Linked DNA regions of Homo sapiens: region 2 is linked to region 1. The links come from fine-mapping of genetic effects on gene expression. Tissue or cell type: prefrontal cortex. Region 1 holds a variant in brackets; the other region holds the start of a gene. All regions are shown on one strand. Distances are from middle to middle.

Region 1 (2,759 bases):
TAGCACCAGCCTCTAAACTACGTGTCCCAAGCAGGTTCCTCCCCCTTTAGCGGCCAAAGAGAACAAGCTCCCTCAGCAATAGAGTCCTGATCACTGCGCTCAAGACGAAGAAGAAAAGGAGGCACTTTGGAATATTTGTGAAATAAAGCAGCAAAGGAGTCAAATAAGAAAACAGTTTGAAATGGACTCCGGGAGCTGCGGTCTCTTTAAAACCTTCCCTCGCTTCCCGCGGAGGGTAAAAAGAGAAGTACACGTGGCTGTAAGCAACCAGGGACCCCAGGCTGGCCTGGTGAAGCCGAGGAGTGAGACCTGCGTCTTCCGGGCGCTAGGGCCCGAGCCGGGCGGACAATAGACGGGGGGGTTTCGGGGGTCTCCCCTTCCCGTGCCTCCCGCGCGAGGTGGTCTCGCGCGCCGGAAACAGGCCGCATCCTCCAGCCGGCCTGGGCCCGCCCCAGTGCCCACCCCGACACTTACTCTTATTGACGGTCTTGAGAGCGCGCGTGAAGTCGCCGTTCTGGCCATACCGGTTCACTTCACTCCACAGCGCAGGTACTGACACCCCCCCGCTGCCGCCGCTCGCCATCTTGGAGGAGACGAGGGGCGGGGCGGGGAGACCTCTGCCCCGGAACAGGATCTCCGAGGCAGCCAAGAGGAGGAGGAAGTCGATGATTGCTAAGCGTCGCCGAGTTGGGAGTGTCTTCAGCCCTAAGGCAGCATCAGAGATCATAATCTTCTGCTCTCGTGGCAAGAAATTTGTGCGGATAGAGTTGATACACCTCACTTGAAGTTGGCCTGGAGAAAAGAGGCGTCGGACTCCTGGACGGGGTTGGGAAACGGTCACCAGTTTCGGCTCAAAGCAGCCTGTTTCCAGGAGACCGCCATGGTCGAGGCAGCGTCCTGGTCCCACGGTGCGGGGCCGGACGATCATTTATGGGATATAAATAAAAGGACTATGAGGTGGTAAATAAAAGACTACCAACTAGAAGCCATAGGGAGTCATTTGAAGGAGAAATAGGCACGGCTCATCTGTGGTTGAGGGAAAGGGATCTTGAAAGATGATTAGGAGAACTTGGGTTCTGGGGAAAGTGCGGGAAGACATTCTGGCAGAGAAGCAAACGTGAGGAAAGGTAAGAAGGCAAGAATCTCCCATTACAAAGGGTTTGGTGAAACCCTTTGCCTGTCCTTTTCGCTCCCTTCGGGAGCAGTCGGCAATAAGCTGGAAGGGTAATGGGGTGAAAATGCCCGTGGTCAGTTCCCTGGCTCTGCGACTCACTAGATGTCTGACAATAAACAAGTTACTTAGCTTCTGGGAGTCTGTTTTCCCGATTGTGAAATGGGGATACTATATTTGTTCTAGAGATATAAAATATTAGGGTTTGCTTGCGACCGTTAATATCAAGATGTGTTCAGATGTACGAAGGGAATGGATATCTGTTGGGTACACTTGATGTGAGTGATTTTTTTTTTTTTTT[G/AG]AGACGGGGATCTTGCCGTGTTGCCCAAGCTGGTCTGGAACTCCTGGGCTCAAGCAATCCTCCCACCACAGCCTCCCCAAGTGCTGGGATTACAGGCATGAGCCACCACACCAAGACGATGTGAGTGATTCACTTGATGTGAATGTTGTATTTCATTGAATGGCCTGCTCTTCAGACTCATATCTCGTCATGACCTTTACAACTTCTACTACTTCCTGTGTCCCTCAGGAACCTAGCTTTTTTTTTTTTTTTTTTTTTTTTTTTTTGAGACGTAGTCTAGCTCTGTGACCCAGGATGAACCTCACTGCAATCTCCACCTCCTGGGTTAAAGCGATTCTTTTGCCTCAGCCTCCCAAGTAGCATGAGCCACCACGCCCGGTTAATTTTTGAATTTTTAGTAGAGATGGGGTTTCACTGTGTTGGCCAAGCTGGTCTCAAACTCCTGACCTCAAGTGATCCGCCCTCTCTCAGCCTCCCAAAGTACAGGGATTACAGGCGTAAGCCACCGTGCCCGGCCTTGCTAACTACTTTTTGTCTTTCAGTCTTTCTGGTTATACGTTGAAAGTTACTTTGAGGAAACATTTGATCTTGCAGACTGGGCAGCCTTCTGGTTGCATCCTCTTAGAACAGGGGTCCCCAACCCTTGTACTGGTCTGCAGCCTGTTAGGAACCGGGCGGCACAGCAGTAGGTGATCGGTGGGCCAGTGAGCAGTACCGCCTGAGCTCCTGTCAGATCAGCTGTGATATTAGCTTCTCACAGCTCAAACCCTATTGTGAACTGGGAATGTGAAGGATCTAGGTTGCTCACTCCTTAAGAGAATCTAATGGGAAATGTAATGAGCTTGAATCATACTGAAACCAGCTGTCCAACTCCTGTGGAAAGATTGTCTTCCCTGAAACCGGTCCCTGGTGCCAAAAAGGTTGGGAGACTCCCTATAGGACTCCACTTCTGAGCACTGATAATTAAGGGTTATCTCACTCTGTATGGACTATAGTTCTGAGGCCAAGGAACCATATTTACCTTGCTCACTGCAGTATCCCTAGGATCTAGCATACTGCCTGGCACATAGTTGGCATTTTTTGTTTCACATTCCTTGCCTAATCTTGAGTTCCTTGAGGGCAGAAACTGCCCAGCTCCTGATATGGCATATGGTGCCCTGCCATATTTTTGTCTGGTCCTTCCAGTATATACAATGCAAAGAGCATGAAAGGTGGCTTGAACTCTAGGTGCTGGAGGGTGTAATTCTTGTGAATTAGTAAAAATCATGAGAAGAGCTTTAGACTTTT
Region 2 (2,759 bases), 79 kb after region 1:
GGTCTCTGTAATGGAGGACATCAGGCACCTAAAACAAAGAGAATTAAGTGAAAATTGTACTAAATTCTGAGACATACCGCAGCCTCCATACCCCTCCTCTCCCACTTGATTTTCAACAAACGTCCCATGGGCTCAACAGCTTCCAATCAACTTTTAAATATACCCCCACTTACATATGAGCAGATAAGGACCACCAGACATCCTAGGAAAGCCTCTAATGTGAAAGATAGAGCACAAAATCAACAGAAGAAAAAAAAAGGAAACTTGAGGGAAATAGATACTGCAAGGGAAGAAAAACTTTAAAAAAGGTATCATTAATATCAGAGAGTTGGATGATGATACTGGAATAATAAAACATCATTTTGGCAGCAATTCAGAGTCAATCAGAGGCAAACAAAACTGAAAACGTTTTAGGAAAAAGCTGACCAAGAAGACCTGAACTAAAGTAGCAGTAATGGCGATGAACATGACACTTAAAAAACGCAGGTTCTAGGCCCCTCACTAGAAAACTAGGGGATGAACCTCCGGGGATGGAGTCCAGGAATTTGGAATCTTCTAAAACATCACCACCGGCAATTCTGATGTAGCCAGCTGGGTGCTGGTCTCAAGACTGAGAACTAGAGGACATAGGGTCTAATCGGATGTAAGAGGTTAAGAAAGTGGGAAGGTTGATAACTGTCTGGCTGGGTGGATGATGGTGTCATCCCAACGTAGAAACATAGAAACATAGACAAGATACACTTTTGCCCACTTCCAACCTAAATACATAAATAAGGCTGTGTTAGTTTGAGTAGTCCATGGTACATCTTGGAAAAGTATAGTTGGCATGTGGAGATATTTTTTGCTTAGATTAGAAGCACAGTTTCTTGTCACCAACAACTACGGCTGCGAGAGCGTCCTATGCTTTTTTCTCACGTACTGTTTTGATGCAGAGCTGTCTTCGCAGTCCCTCCCCCGGCTAAAACCCCCCAAACAAAAAAATCCCGATTATTCTGCCACCAGACAGTAGCTTTAAAACACCTCTGTTATTGCCCTTGACGCTTATTGTAATAATTGACATGTCTCCAACTGTAACAATTCCCTTGGAAACAGAAAGTTCTATTCAGGCATATAGTTTACAAAACTCCACCTCGGACCTGCTTTAATTTCTTTACAGGTCCTACTAAATGCTCCTGTCAAATTCCTTAGTTATCGTTTCAATCTGCTTCCCAATTAAAATGTCAGCATCATGATGACAGGAACGTCGTTTGCAGGCGTCACTGCTGCAGCCATATCTCCAGCACGTTTCCAGAAAATGTCATTGGTTGAAAGCAATAACTCTCCTATTTCACAATGATTTCATCTCTCTTCACATCAACCCTAGGTGATGTTTTTATTCTCACCTTATGAACGAGAATACTGCGGCTCAAAATTCAAGAGTCTTGCCCAGAGTTTTTTGGCAAGTACGAAAGGGTTATGGCTCCAAACTGGTTAGCTCCGAAGTCCTTGCAAACCCTGTCCGAGACCATGCGCGACCCCAAGGAGCGCCTGAGCAGATAACCAAAAGTGAAAAAGCCTATAGACCTCTTCACTCAAGTTAGCGCCTCGGCTTCAGGAGAGGCAGCGCCAGCTCCACGCAGCCGGCCCGGGGTCGCTCGCACTGACGTCACGTAGCGACGCGGAAGATTTACGTATGGTGCCTCGCTCTGGGATAGCTTTACGGCTTCTGGGAGCTGCTGCTTCGCTGTGAGAAGTATCCGCGACGAGCTATCCGGGAAAGGGCCGAATGCGATCAAACCTAATCCGCGAGACTTGCTAAGTGAGTCGCGGCAGGGCGCGGTGTCCGGCGGGGGTCTGTGTGAAGGAGGCGAAGTGCCGCTAGGCCTGAGCCTGCTTCCACATACATTTGCTCAGCTTCAGGACCACTGCCTGACCTCGGATTTGATACATCGGGGTCTGGCGTGCTGGTGTGGTGCAGACTAACCCTGACCTGTGTGTACACTCCTGCGTCACTAGCCTCCGCCCCTCCATTCAAATGGAAATAAGTGTGCTCCGCGCTCAGCTACCCCCTAGAGTGGTTTCGAAGAGCAATGAAGAAATGTTTAGGAAGCTGTAAATTGCATTGTTACTCGTTGCATACCGTAAATTTAGAAGCCGGGGAATTGGGAAAATAAAGTTTCTAGATTATTTATCCATTTTTAAAACAGCCAGTGGCCTAGAGAGAGGCCCCATAGCAATTGAATTTGCTGACACTCTTAAGATCTTTGTTGACTAAATAGCAGCTTCTACAGTTGTAGCAAGTAAATTTATTCCTTTTACATGTAAAATCTGCTTACCAGAGTTTGCTTTTTTTTTTCCTTTTTTTTTTTTTTTTTTTTTTTGAGACGGAGTCTCGCTCTGTCGCCCAGGCCGGACTGCGGACTGCAGTGGCGCAATCTCGGCTCACTGCAAGCTCCGCTTCCCGGGTTGACGCCATTCTCCTGCCTCAGCCTCCCGAGTAGCTGGGACTACAGGCGCCCGCCACCGCGCCCGGCTAATTTTTTGTATTTTTAGTAGAGACGGGGTTTCACCTTGTTAGCCAGGATGGTCTCGATCTCCTGACCTCATGATCCACCCGCCTCGGCCTCCCAAAGTGCTGGGATTACAGGCGTGAGCCACCGCGCCCGGCCTTTTTTTCCTTTTTAAGGTCTCAAACATTTGGGCATTAATAAGTTTAGTATTCTCTACTGCAGAGAATGTTATTTGTGATTCAATGAATGAAAATGAAAACCTGAGACAAG

What was found. PIP is the estimated chance that this variant, and not a neighbour inherited with it, causes the effect.
Region 2: AASDH starts here. The variant in region 1 is fine-mapped to the expression of AASDH in prefrontal cortex (CommonMind, PIP 0.94).

The regions. Positions count from the first base shown.
Region 1 is chr4:56,465,460-56,468,218 of GRCh38, reverse strand. It overlaps SRP72 (signal recognition particle 72), which reads right to left and starts at 602. Exons shown (of 19, transcript NM_006947.4): 1 at 475-602. The coding sequence starts at 583. It overlaps LOC124900706 (a long non-coding RNA gene), which reads left to right and starts at 661. Exons shown (of 2, transcript XR_007058126.1): 1 at 661-1,127. RefSeq lists an enhancer at 548-757. The variant G/AG (reference allele first, on the strand shown) is at 1,473.
Region 2 is chr4:56,386,401-56,389,159 of GRCh38, reverse strand. It overlaps AASDH (aminoadipate-semialdehyde dehydrogenase), which reads left to right and starts at 1,669. Exons shown (of 15, transcript NM_181806.4): 1 at 1,669-1,798. RefSeq lists enhancers at 1,325-1,374, 1,237-1,743, 1,405-1,774, 1,744-2,251.